Homo sapiens: one gene and its partners. The protein of the gene in region 1 purifies or fractionates together with the protein of each later gene. This does not show direct contact. Each region holds a gene or a part of one and is shown in the gene's direction. Other genes may lie near its edges.

Region 1 (4,868 bases):
TAGATACAATGTCTAGAATGTATGCACTTTCATAGGAAAAGGGAAAGCAGGTACAAAACGATCAATAGTCTAAAAGTGGGCTTGTTGTTTTAAAAAAAAAATGACCACCTTTAATTCTTTCTGGAGAAAGGGTATGAAATCAGGTAACAAAGTGTAGTATATATTTGATCATTTTTCTCTCTCCATGTCTAGAACACCAGCCTCATCAACCAGAAGAAGAAGATGGAGTCGGATCTGACCCAGCTCCAGTCGGAAGTGGAGGAGGCAGTGCAGGAGTGCAGAAACGCCGAGGAGAAGGCCAAGAAGGCCATCACGGATGTAAGTGACCGCCCACCTTCCGCCTCCCCTAAAGACAGAAACAAGGCCTTGGGTCCAGGCCAGGCCACTGTGCTGTAACACCAAGCCAACTCTGCAGTTCTGTGGATTTGAGGGCCTGATGGGAGAAAGGAGATCCTTGGGGGGCAAAAGGCCCCGGCCCCTGGCCCATGTTCCTTGCCACCTCTCTCCTGCACACAGGCCGCCATGATGGCAGAGGAGCTGAAGAAGGAGCAGGACACCAGCGCCCACCTGGAGCGCATGAAGAAGAACATGGAGCAGACCATTAAGGACCTGCAGCACCGGCTGGACGAGGCCGAGCAGATCGCCCTCAAGGGAGGCAAGAAGCAGCTGCAGAAGCTGGAAGCGCGGGTGCGGGAGCTGGAGGGTGAGCTGGAGGCCGAGCAGAAGCGCAACGCAGAGTCGGTGAAGGGCATGAGGAAGAGCGAGCGGCGCATCAAGGAGCTCACCTACCAGGTGCGGCGGACGCCAGACACCAGGAGTAGATGTGGAAGTTTCTTCTCTGGCCCCACTGCCCCGCCCTCACAGGGCTCCTCTCACCTCCTCCTTGAGATGCTGTTGGTAGATTTAACGTTCTTCTCACGCTCTGCAGTCAGTTTGACTTGAGTCTATGAGTTTTTCCAGCAAATGAAGAATCTACTTCTACTTCCTGAAAACTCTTCTAACTAGTCTTTCCCCAGGTTTCTTTCTTTCTTTTTTTTTTTTTTTAATAACTCTAAGTGCTACCATGAAGACTTCAGAACAGTTCAAAGAATCCTTCCACCTTCGACTGTGGGGATAAGAGTCAGGGGAGGGGAAAAGACCCGGAAATCTTCCATAGAACTTCTGGCACACAAAGAGAAGGCCACAGAGAAAGAGGACCCTAGAATGCTCTAAAACCTCCACTTGCATAGCTGAGAGCTGTGCCCTTGGCCCGTTATTTTCAGTGTACCTGGGAAGAAAAGGCCAAGGAGACGAGGGTGTCAGTCCATTTGATAGATGGATACCAGAGGCACAAGAAAGAGGTTACAGATACAGAACCACAGAGTGATTTGTGGACAGAAGTAGAAATGGCATCCTGGCACATACAATGATAAAGAGATAGGAATGATCGAGTGACGTTGGAGCCAGTGATCCCGATGCCTGAATTCTGGCCCAGTACAATATATTAGAATGTAGAATAATCTGGATTATGATAATACCCCCTTCTTTCTGCATTCTTTTTCTGGTCAAGAACTACTGGCCAAGAGAACCTATGTAAGTCCAGGTTGGAGCTTTATCCACCATACTGGAGCTGGAACAGACCTGGTGCTTTTATATTACCACATTAGGGAATTCCATTAGGTTCTGAGCCCCTCCCCCTACTTCTAGCTTTATGACTTCAGCCTTCATTGCTCTGTGGATCCCTGACTGACAACCTTGCATTGCCCCTTTGACCTACGATAGAGTCAGAGAATCTTCCCCACCACCTCTTTGACCTGGATCATTGCAGGGAGGGGCAGCAAAGGCAAGGGGAGAAGAGTAAAATGATGGAGGAGGGAAAGGTGATTGCATTTGCTCCCCCTCCAAACCAGCTTCTCCCACCCTCCCACCCCCAGACAGAGGAAGACAAAAAGAACCTGCTGCGGCTACAGGACCTGGTGGACAAGCTGCAACTGAAGGTCAAGGCCTACAAGCGCCAGGCCGAGGAGGCGGTGAGTTCAGAGCTTTCTTCCCTTTCTCATCAACACACCTACTATTTGTGAGAACCAATGAATATCTCCTACAGAGGGGCCTGGACAAAGAGTTTGCTATAAACTTTAACTCTCAAACATTTGTTTGACACATCTGGTATGCTCAGAGCTGTCAGGTGTTCTGAATTAACAAAGGCACCACCTACAAGCTGCTTACAATTCAGATACCATAACCCAACAGAAGGCAGTGTAGATGCTAGTGCAGGACGTGGGGCAGCCGAAGCTGAAGGCAGGAAGGTGGCGGTGGAATTGGGCCTAGAAGGGGACCCAGCTAGCCACAGGGCAGTGGGGAAGACATCTGGGTGGATGTGAGTTGCTGATTAGCATGCCTGCACAGGAAGCTGGGGTCCGGGACAGGTGCAGCAAAACAGGATTCTGAAGGGGCCCAGATCGGGCAGCATGGGATTTGTCTGGGGCAGTGGATGGCCGTGAAGGACTCTGAGTGCTGGACATGTTTGAGAAGAGTGCAAGGCAGTTGCAGGATACCCTTGGGAAGGCTGTTGCAGGAATATGCATGAGGTATGGGTGCCTCAGGGACAGGGAGCTGGAACCTCAGGTTGAGAGGCTGAGAATCCCATAGCCCATCTCCAGCTCATTCACCCATCCCCACTGTCCCACCACAGGAGGAGCAAGCCAACACCAACCTGTCCAAGTTCCGCAAGGTGCAGCATGAGCTGGATGAGGCAGAGGAGCGGGCGGACATCGCTGAGTCCCAGGTCAACAAGCTTCGAGCCAAGAGCCGTGACATTGGTGCCAAGGTGGGTCCCTCCCCTGGGCTTCACTAGTCACTTCCACATTAGCATGCCCCCTGATATGGGTGCCCTTCAGAGTGGGCACTGCTTGCCCTATATGTAGGCAGTTCTGAGGGTCCCATAGCTTACATAACCTGAGAATCCACTCTCCTGCTCAAAACAGCCCCCCACTGACTGGAACTTCTGCAGAGATCCCCAGTTCCATCCCCCTAAACCACAAGTGCCTCTAACGTGGGACCACAGGATCCCTGGGGCCCTGCCTCTCCCTCCAAGGGCATCTCCCTTAGGCCTCTGAAAGCCCCAGGGATTTGTCCCCACACACTTCTCCCTCTTGCCAGCTGCCCCCTCACACCTCTTATTCTTTTTGCAGCAAAAAATGCACGATGAGGAGTGACACTGCCTCGGGAACCTCACTCTTGCCAACCTGTAATAAATATGAGTGCCAAACTCTGCCTGAGCCCATCTGTCCTTCCTGCCAGCTGTCCATCCTGGATCAGGGCAGTAGGGGGCCTGAGAGGAGGGAGGCCCCCAGCCCCTGTATCAGAGCTGCCAGAGCCAAGGCATCCCATATCCACAAGGAAGGAGACCGAGGTGCAGAGGAGTGAGGTGTTCTGCCTGACGTGGACAGCTGTGAGTCCCAGTTCTGCTCAGTCAACCACACAAGGGTGGAGAGGGAGAAATTTCAAAAGTGAAGAAAACAATGGCATCAAAATGGTGAGCCAGTCCAAGATGCTACGAGATAGAATTTTGGTGCCGAAGTTGAAGCCACTCTCCACCTACCCCACCCCTGAGGCTGCAATGATTAAAGGTGTCCTAGGACACCCATTCTTTCTGAAATGAATTTTCCACCAATGCCAGAAAAGGCTCAGAGCTGGCTGAGAATTAAGGTATGGGAAAGGAGATGGGAGAGATTCCATTCTAGTCAGCCCCTAGGAAGTAACTCCCAGGGAGCCCCCTCCCTGTCTTCCCCAGGGGTCTCCCCCTGCCTCCTATGATTCAGCACCTCACCGTGAGGGCATCTTGAGACTCTGGGGCCAATCAACACTGAGCCCAAACCAATATGCCATGAGGACCAAGCCTGGGCATTGCTCATTTCATGTTGGTTCTCACACAGACACAGATGGCACAGGTGCCTGTACAGGGAAACACTGTGGTCACATTTCTGCTCTCTCTAAGCTCCTACTGGGGACAGTCTGGCCTGGATCACACAGCTGCTTGTGGGACAGGCCCGGTCCTGACCCCGTTCTGCACAAAGCAAATCCCCACTCCCCACTGGGCTTTGCAGCCAGGCTCTGCTGACCGCCTCCTTAACCGTTCACCTGGCACCCCATCTCCCTGACTCCCCAAGTGGAGCCTCTTCTATCCCTCCTCTGAGACCATGAGAATGGACTGTGCATAAAGCCCTGAGAAATGTGAGCAGTGACCAGAGAAACACAAAATCCTGTTGGTTCTAGCCCAGGAGAGGCTGCCAGTTCTGATGGTGAGCCAGGACACAAGGATAGGAGAACAGGAAGCAGGAGGCAGGAAAAAGACCAAGAGAGAGGAGTGGCTGCCACCAAGGAAGCAGAGCGCTCTGACCAGAGTTCAAGATCCAGGGTTCGGGCAGGACTTGGGAGCTGGGGCCTGCAGCTGGAAGGAGCGCTCCAGAAGAAGGATTGTATCTCAGGGCGGGAACACACACACATCAGCGACAGGAGATAGCACGTCAGCTGGGATGGAGCTGCTGAGCCAGGCCATGCTGGGCTCCTCGGGCTGGGCAGGAACGTCTGGCTGCACATCTGTCTGTCTCGGCCCAGCAGGGCTGACTCCCGGGCTGTGGCAGTGTCTGCTCCAAACTCCCCTGAGCCTTCCCATAGCATTCACTGTGGGGAGCTCTTGACCAGCTTGTCTCTTTCCCAGCCTGTGAGTGCTAAAGGGCAGGCCCCCCGTCACCTCTGAGGCCCTGGCACCCAGCACAGTGTGCATGGGAGATGCTCAGGAAATGTGTGCTGAGGAGCTGGCAAGCTGGGAGGGTGGACCCGCAGTGGAGGGAAGAGTTGGCCATTCTTTTCTGAGCTACAAGGAGGCT
Region 2 (3,518 bases), on another chromosome or scaffold:
ACCCAGATAGTTAGTCAAACAAACACTTACTAAATCTACCAGGACTTTAAGATAATGTCTTTTTCATCTTACCATGAATTGAGAGAAGATGAGAAGAGCTTCCCAGACATGCAGTTTCTCAGAATCTCCCAAGTCCTACAGAGATGCACATTCCCATGACAGCAGCCCACATGCAGTGGCTTTCTCTTATTCTTGTCAGATATTTTAGAATATAATATTACTTTAAAAAAATTGCCATAGGGGGCTGGGCGCAGTTGCTCACACCTGTAATCCTAGCACTTTGGGAGGCCAAGGCGGGAGGATTGCTTGAGGCCAGGAGTTGGACGTCATAGTGAGATCTCGTCTCTACAAAAAAATGAAAAAGAAAATAACCAGGCATGGTGGTACGTGCCTATAGTCCCAGCTGCTTGGGAGGCTGAGGTGGGAGGATCGCTTGAGCTTGAAGTTCAAGGCTGCAGGGAGCCATGATCATGCCACTTTACCTCAGCCTGGGCAAGAGTAAGAGCCTGTCAAAAAAAATTAAAAATAAAAAGCCCCAAGAAAATCCCCATGATTTTTTTAAAAATGAAATCCCCAAGACAATCCCCATGTGAAGATTCTAGAAGTAAAGGATTTCCATTTTTTCATATTATTTCAGACTATTTGGAGACTTAACTCATATGGCCCTACAGTCAGGTTTTAACCCTATCCCTGAATTGACTATAACTGTCTGATTTCCCAAGTCTCAAAATCACAGGGGCCATGAGTCAGTTTTAATATTTGGCATTCTGGGAGTCTGGGTCTGGCTCAAGGACAAGACATGACTTGTTTGTTGGCAGTAGTACTTGGTGGCAAGAATGAATGTATCAATGTGTGTCTCAGGTCTCGAAGTACCGAGGCTGGAGTGCAGTGGTGGTACTGAGTCTGGTCTCCGGGAAGTATCAAATAAGAAGGGAAGTATGGGAGTCACGTCTCGGGGAAAGTACCTACCGAATCAGAAAGCCAGGCAGACCTTCTAAAGAGACTTTTATGAATGTGAGATAATAGTATAGAAATTGGGGAGACCAGTTGATGTTACAGAAGAGGGAAAGTGGTAGAGGTGAGATTTCTTTAGCTCTTGAAAGCGTAGCTGTTCTTTACATGACAGCTGCCTTTGGATATGGAGTACCCCGTCTGTAGATAGTCAGTAAGCCTTGAATGTGGTTTCATACCATTATAATATGTTCTAGAGTACTCGCCTCAAATCCTTTTTGGAAGTAGGTGGGTCACCAAGCATTATTAGAAATAAGAAATTATGCAGCATCTTGATTTTAGATGCATATAGTATAGGATTTCTGCTTTACGTATGGTTTATTGCGGGAAGGGAAGGGAAAGGGTCATCTCAGAGTCTTAATGAAGCAGATGTGTTTTATTATGGTTTCTATCTAAGATGACCTGTTTCAGATATAGTAACTTTATATATATGGAATGAGAAAAGGCATCTATAATACAGCAAAGTTTCTAACTAGATAATAGAGCATAAGCCAGGCATGGTGACTTACAACTGTAACCCCAGCACTTTGGGAGGCCAAGGTAGGAGGATCCCTTGAGCCCAGGGGTTCAAGACCAGCCAGGGAACATAGGGAGACCTCATGTCTTTTTTTTTTTTTTTTAAGTTTTGAAAAAATAGAGCATATTTTTACTTTTATTCTGTGTGATTAACTGTTTTCTTATAATATGTCCTATTACATTCCATTTAGGTTAGAATGGCTGAGGAGCACTCTGAATTTGTTGTTGGTTTTATTTCTGGCTCCCGAGTAAGCATGAAACCAGAATTTCTTCACTTGACTCCAGGAGTTCAGTTGGAAGCAGGAGGTAAATCTGGTCACTGGTCGTGGCTCTTCCAAAAATGCTTCTTTACCCATGGCAGGCAAAATAAAACTTTGCATATTATTATACACTTGCTTAAGAAAAGCCTTCTTAGTCTAGAACAATAATGAATGAGCCCTTTGGTAACTATGTATCTTTGGACAAGTCAGTTTACTTCTTTTAGTCTAATTGTCTGTAAAATGGGGATGATAACAGTATTGACCTCATAAGGTAATCAAGATGCTTTAATGAGATAACATGTAGAATATTTAACACAATGTCTTGGCACAGAGTAAACACTCTGTACTTATAAGCCCTTATTCGTAAGCCCTAATAATTGTTTGACTAGATATTATAGTTAGGGTCTAGGCTTTTAAGAATACTTAAAGTATCTTGGATTTGGAAGATAATAAGCCATTTAACAGAATGCTTCTGAAACAGCGGAATTTAATAAAAAAGCAAAATTTAAGGATTCGGGTTTATGGATAGTCTGTGTGACCACTTGATGGGGTTCTTGTATATGGTAGTGGTCAGGTTAGACTTGCTCAGCAGTGCCTTGTGGTGATTCTAAGATGTGTGCTAAAATTTTCTTCAATTGTGAGGCCAATCTTTATTGTATTTTTTTGATATTGAACCTTTCTTTGCAACATATGAGTTTTACTTCTTTTTTTAATATATTGTTAAGCTACAGATGATCTAAAATTTGACATTGAGGGGGTGAATATTTAGGGCAACTTGAATTTATGCTTCTGGAAAAAAATTACATGAAAAAATAATGATAAAATAAATAAGGCTGGGTGCGGGGGCTCACGCTCGTAATCCCAGCACTTTGTGAGGCCGAGGTGGGCAGATCACCTGAGGTCAGGAGTTCAAGACCAGCTTGGCCGACATGGTGAAACCCTGTCTCTACTCAAAATACAAAAATTAGCCGGGCGTGGTGGTGCACGCTTTTAATCCCAGCTACTCGGGAGGCTGAGGCAGGAGAATCGCTTGAATCCGGGAGGCGGGGGTTGCAGCGAGCTGAGATTGTGCCATTGCACTCCAGCCTGGGTGACAGAGCAAGACTCTGTCTCAAAAAAATAAATAAATAAATAGGGCGGGGCGCAGTAGCTCATGCCTGTAATCCCAGCACTTTGGGAGGCTGAGGCGGGCGGATCATGAGGTCAGGAGATCGAGACCATCCTGGCTAACACGGTGAAACTCCATCTCTACTAAAAAATACAAAAAATTAGCCAGGCGTGGTGGCAGGCGCCTGTAGTCCCAGCTACTCGGGAGGCTGAGGCAGGAGAATGGCATGAACCTGGGAGGCAGAGCTTGCAGTGAGCCGAGATAGCACCACTGCACTCCAGCCTGGGTGACAGAGCGAGACTCCGTCTCAAAAAAATAAATAAATAAAAATAAATAAATAAATAAATAAATAAAATAAACTTTACCATTGAAAAGGAGTTGGTGATCATCTTTCTCCATTTGACGTCTCTGGCCTACCCAGTGAGTCTCTTCAGCTCCTGTTTTTACGCAGTTGCTGTACAAAAGGGGAACGAAAGTAGGGGCATGTTTTTATTTAAAGCTGGTTAGATACTTTTTCAGAGAAGTCATGTGACAGGTTTTCTGATTTTTGTATTATGTGAAACAACAATTTTTGTGTTTCTTGCAGGAGATAATCTTGGCCAACAGTACAATAGCCCACAAGA
Region 3 (2,187 bases), on another chromosome or scaffold:
GGTGTTACTCTGCTCCGCTTAGTAACAAGGTGAGAACCCTGAATAAGGACCTAGGGACCACTGACTCCAGAACAGTGGGGTCCCAGCGTGTCACCCCCTGCTGTCAGCCCTCGGAGACCCAGAGCGGGACGTGTCTCACCCTCACAACTCCCTGCCCCTTACAAAAGGGGACCCACACGTCTCACCCTTGTGGTTGACCCTGGGAGGTCCTGGTTGAGTTCTGTCTGGAAAGGCACCCAGAGGGAGGGTCTTTCACTAAGGGAGCAGCCCCAGTTATTCAGTTGGCGGGGACCTGGACCCTAACTGGAGCCAAGGTGAAGTCTCCGAGTGCTAAAGGATGGGATCTGTTCCCAGTAGGGGCGTCAACAGAAAGCAGCAGCAGCCCTACTGGTTAGCATCCTCCTGGTTAGCACCAGTGGTCCTTGTCTTTTTTATTTATTTTTATTTTTTTTCAGACAAGGTCTCACTGCTGCTAGCCAGTTTAGAAGGCTCCAGACAAGTGTAGTCATAAGCGGAGGCCCTGACTTCCCCATCCAGGGAGGGAAGTGTTCAGGGAGATGAGGGTTTTGTTTGGAGGTTGGCGAACTCAGGTCAGTAGAGGGAGAAATTTCAGGCTGTGATAAGATACCAAGGTGAAGACCCTGAATGAGAATCTAGGGACCAGCAACTCCAAAACAGTGAAGTCTCATAGAGTTCCACCCGTGTTGTCAGCCATCAGACCCCAGGAAGCTGTGAACAGATAAGGCTCTTCCTCACTTCCTTGGAAGTGCTTTGAAGGGGAGGATCTGGAGGCGAGGGGCACGGGATCTCTTCGGCAGAGGGTGAATTCCTTGGACTGTCTGGAGTCAAGGTCAGGACCCTGAATGTGCATGAAAGGGACCACCATCCCCCAACCTGTAACAAAGAGGGCCACACTAAATCCTGCCCCGGAAGTCTTCCCTGGGAATACCTTGAAAGCTGTCTGACAGATATCTACCTGGAAAGTCTCAGGGAGGGAAGGGCCTTGGTCTAAGAAAGTAGCCCCAGTTCAGCAGGTGGAAGAGAGACTTGGGTCCTAACTGGAGTCAAGGTGAGGGCCCTGAGTGCTAATGAAGCAATCTCTCTGCAATAGAGGTGTCAACACAAACAATGTCCTTGCACTCATTTTGCAACCTCCAGGCAAAGGTATTCATAGGTGAGGGGTCCCTGACTTCCCTGTCTAGGGTCTTGTTCTGAGGCTGGAGGACTTAGGTTAATGGAGGGAAGTGTCCCACATCCTACTAAGAGTCAAGGTCAGAGACCTGAGAGAAAACTAAAGGGAACACTCTCTCTAAAAAGTAGAGTCCCACAAATTGTGCCTCTTCTCTCAGCTCCAGGAAGCCTTGGAATAACGTCAGCCCCCCTTACTGCCTAGAGAGTGCCAGAAAGGTTGAACTAATTACATGCCCCAGTTCTGCAGAGGGAAGAGTGAGGAGACCCAGAGCCTTACAGGGGTCACAGTGAGGACCCTGAATGAAGACTAGTGATACAACTCCTCCCACATAAAGAAGAGACAACAAAGATTCCCCCACTCCCCACTTGCAGCGCTGATGAGGCTGGGCATGGAGGTCAGGTGTATGTGAACTCACCTTCTTTTAATGGCATTAGGTTGCTGAGAGCCTTTATCTAAAGTGAGGGGCATCAGAGCAGCAGAGGCAGCTGTCCTAGGTCCTATCTAGAGACAAGATGAGGACTATGAATGAGGTGTCAGGACTCCAATAAGCCCAGGAAAGAGTAGGACTCCACAATGCTGTTAGCACCCAGTTCCTCCTGTCAGGGGTGGTAAGGCTGAGACATTCCTTCACCTCCTCTTAGGTGGTCCCAAGGAGATGAGGACATTTGCTGGAGGTGTCAAATTTAGTGCAGCACAGGGGAGAAGACCCAGCCCTGACAGTTTTTATGATGGTCCTGAGTGTGAACTGAGAGAAACCTCCTACCCCAGAGTAAAAGGAGATCCACAAGGACTAGACATGCCACGGCTGCTCTCAGTCCCAGTATACACAGAACAGGGCTGGCAGGCTGTGGCCTAAGGCACACTTTAATTACTTTCACAGGGTTCTCAGAGGACAAACTGATCAGAACAGAAGCCCTCTGGGTTTCCAGAGCAGTGCTCTCACAGAAAACTGCAGAGGCGACCTTCTTTTAAATCCAAAGTGGTACCTCTCTGCT
Region 4 (3,518 bases), on another chromosome or scaffold:
CACAATTTCTGTGGGTTGTGAGTTTGGACATGGCTTAGTTAGATTCTTTGCTTAGGGTCTTCCAAAGCTGTAATCAAGTCGTTGGCCAGTATGCATTCTCATCTGGAGTTTTAGCTTCTGAATAAGTAAAATATTCTAAATGTAACTTGAAATACTTTTCCCCCCATTTTTAAGAGTAACATAGGTCCATTATAGAAAATTTGGGAAATATAAAAGCAAACAGAGGTAACCCAATTCTGGCAAAGTTTTCCAGCATGTGCTTTACAGTCAGTCAGACCTGGTCTTGAGTGTCAGCTCTTGGCTCTGCCTGTTATTATTTGTATAACTTTGAGCTATATACTTTCTCTAAGCCTCATTTTTCATTTTTTTTGAATTTTAATATTCTTAATATTTTTAAATTTTGTTTCAAGTTCTAGGGTACACGTGCGGTATGTGCAGGTTTGTTTCATAGGTAAACGTGTGCCATAGTGGTTTGCTGCATCTATCAACCCATCACCTAGGTATTAAATCTAGCGTGCATTAGCTATTTTTCCTGATGCTCTGTCTCCCTGCATCCCCCTGCCATCTGACAGGCCCCAGTGTGTGTTGCTCCCCTCCCTGTGTCCATGTGTTCTCATTGTTCAGCACCCACTTATAAGTGAGTACATGTGGTGTTTGATTTTCTGTTCCTGCATTCGTTTGCCAAGTGTAATGGCTTCCAGTTCCATCCATGCCCCTGCAAAGGACATGATCTCATTCCTTTTTATGGCTTTATAGTATTCCATGGTTTATATGTACCACATTTCTTTATTCAGTCTATCAATGATGGGCATTTGGGTTGATTCCATCTCTTTGCTATTGTGAATAGTGCTGCAGTGAACATATATGTGTGTGTATCTTTATAATTGAATGATTTATTTTCCTTTGGGTATATATGCAGAAATGTGATTGCTGGGTCAAATGGTATTTCTGGTTCTAGGTCTTTGAGGAATCGCCACACTGTCTTCCACAATGGTTGAACTAATTTGCATTTCCACCAACAGTGTAAAATTGTTCCTATTTCTCCACAGTCTTGCCAGCATGTGTTGTTTCTTGACTTTTTAATAATCGCCATTCTGACTGGCATGAGATGGTATCTCACTGTAGTTTTGATTTGCATTTCTCTAACGATCAGTGATGTTGACTTTTTTTCATACGTTTGTTGGCTGCATAAATGTCTTCTTTTGAGAAGTTTGTGTTCATGTCCTTTGCCCACTTATTAATGGGGTTGTTTGTTTTTTTGTCAATTTAAGTTCCTTGTAGACTCTGGATATTAGCCCTTTGTCAGATGGAGAGATTGCAAAATTTTTCTCTCATTTTGTAGGTTGTCTGTTTGCTCTGATGATAATTTCTTTTGCTGTGCAGAAGCTCTTTAGTTTAATTGGATTCCATTTGTTAAGTTTTGCTTTCGTTACAATTGCTTTTGACATTTTCATCATGAAATCTTTGCCTGTGTGTATGTGCTGAATGGTATTGCTTAGATTTTCTTCTAGGGTTTTTATAGTTTTGGGTTTTACATTTAAGCCTTTAATTATCCTGAGTTGATTTTTGTCTATGGTGTAAGGAAGGGGTCCCGTTTCAATTTTCTGCATATGGCTCACCAGTTCTCCCAACACTATTAAGTAGGGAATCCTTTCCCCATTGCTTGTTTTTGTCAGGTTTGTTGATGATCAGATGGTTGTAGATGTGCAGTCTTATTTTTGAGTTCTCCATTCTGTTCCGTTGGTCTATATGTCTGCTTTTGTAGCAGTACCATGCTGTTTTGGTTACTGTAGCCTTGTAGTATAGTTTGAAGTAGGGTAGCATGATGCCTCCAACTTTGTTCTTTTTGTTTAGGATTGTCTTGGCCATATGGGCTCTTTTTTGGTTCCATATGAATTTTAAAATAGTTTTTTCTAATTCTGTGAAGATGTTAATGGTAGTTTAATAGGCATAGTATTGAATCTATAAATTACTTAAAAATGCCAGTATGGCTATTTTCACTGTATTGATTCTTCCAGTCTCATTTTTCTTATTTGGGAAAAGGGTTAATTGTTGTCACTGACATCATTATCCTCAACATTTAAATACAATTTTGTATGCTAGGCAGGTGTATTAGTTCATTCTCATGCTGCTATAAAGAAATACTCGAGACTGGGTAATTTATAAAGAAAAGAGGTTTAATTGACTCACAGTTTTGCAGGCCTCAGGAAACTTACAATTATGGCAGAAGGCCAAACAGAAGCAGGTACCTTTTTCACAAGGTGGCAGGAGAGAAAGTGAGTGCAAACAGGGGAAATGCCAGACACTTATAAACCCATCAGATCTCATGAGAATTCACTATCATGAAAACAGCAAGAGGGAAACTGCTCCCCATGATCCAATCACTTCCCACTGGGTCCCTCTCATGACACATGGGGATTATAGGGATTACAATTCGAGATGAGATTTGGGTGGGGACTCAGCCAAACCATATCAGCAGGGGTTCTAAGCACTTATATATTTAATTAGTTCTGTTTTATAGTTAGTGAAAAAGCTGGGATGTGAACCCAGACAGTGATTCCAGACTGTATTCTTAGCCTTTATACTATATTGTCTCTCAAGACAGAACAGGCTTCACAGGGTTGTGGGATCAAATGTGAAGCTCTTAGCAGAGATAAGTGCTTTATTAATAATGCCTATATTCTAACATCATTGAGAATATACTATACATACAGTTCTGTATTCTACTTTTTATACTTCTTATGTATTTTCCTGTCATTAAACATTTTTAATTTTAATGGATACATAATTCATCATATAGGTATACTGACATTTTATGACTCTTGTTTTTGCAGAGTAAATTGGAGATATAAGTGGTTAAAGATCTAAGTGGTTAAAATACATTAGATTCATGTCTTTGAATAACTATTGTTTTCCTATCTTTTAAAATAACAGCTTTATTGAGCTATAATTCACCCTTTAAAGTATACAGTTCAGAGGTTTTTAGTCAATTCACATAATTGCGCAACTAACATTACTATCTAATTTCAGAACATTTTCTTCACTCCCCAAAGAAACACTATACCCATTAGCAGTCACTCTCCATTATATGCTCCCTCTAGATGCTGGCAATCACTAATCTATGTCTCTGTGGATTTACTTATTCTGGACACATCATATCAATGATACCAAACAATAGGGGGCCTTCTGTGTTTAGAACCCTTTCAAGATTCATTCATGTTGTAGCATGTATCAGTACACCATTGCTTATTATTGCCAAGTAATAGTCCATTGTGTAGATATACCACATTTTATTAATACATTCATCAGTTGGTGGACATTTGGGATGTCTCTACTTTTTGTCTGTTCAAAATGCTGCTGTGACCTTTTATGTACAAGTTTTTACGTGGACGTATGTTTTTAGTTCTCTTGGATGTAAATATGTGAGTTGAATTGCTGGGTCATGTTGTTACTCTGTGTTTAGCTTCTTGAGGAATTGCCAGCTGTTTCCAAAGTGCCCACACTATTTTACATTCCAT

Evidence for each region.
Region 2: the proteins of MYH6 (region 1) and UMPS purify together in Homo sapiens (affinity purification with mass spectrometry; one large-scale study listed by BioGRID and IntAct). This does not show direct contact.
Region 3: the proteins of MYH6 (region 1) and MAGEB3 purify together in Homo sapiens (co-immunoprecipitation; one large-scale study listed by IntAct). This does not show direct contact.
Region 4: the proteins of MYH6 (region 1) and SPICE1 purify together in Homo sapiens (affinity purification with mass spectrometry; one large-scale study listed by BioGRID and IntAct). This does not show direct contact.

The regions. Positions count from the first base shown.
Region 1 is NC_000014.9:23,380,366-23,385,233, reverse strand, and holds the end of MYH6 (myosin-6), read left to right. Parts: intron 1-192; coding exon 193-318; intron 319-516; coding exon 517-792; intron 793-1,913; coding exon 1,914-2,009; intron 2,010-2,671; coding exon 2,672-2,806; intron 2,807-3,170; coding exon 3,171-3,194; 3' UTR 3,195-3,247; downstream 3,248-4,868. UniProt on the Homo sapiens protein: Muscle contraction.
Region 2 is NC_000003.12:124,740,434-124,743,951, forward strand, and holds part of UMPS (uridine 5'-monophosphate synthase), read left to right. Parts: intron 1-1,718; coding exon 1,719-1,833; intron 1,834-3,481; coding exon 3,482-3,518. UniProt on the Homo sapiens protein: Bifunctional enzyme catalyzing the last two steps of de novo pyrimidine biosynthesis, orotate phosphoribosyltransferase (OPRT), which converts orotate to orotidine-5'-monophosphate (OMP), and orotidine-5'-monophosphate decarboxylase (ODC), the terminal enzymatic reaction that decarboxylates OMP to uridine monophosphate (UMP).
Region 3 is NC_000023.11:30,233,639-30,235,825, forward strand, and holds part of MAGEB3 (melanoma-associated antigen B3), read left to right. Parts: intron 1-2,187.
Region 4 is NC_000003.12:113,508,657-113,512,174, reverse strand, and holds part of SPICE1 (spindle and centriole-associated protein 1), read left to right. Parts: intron 1-3,518.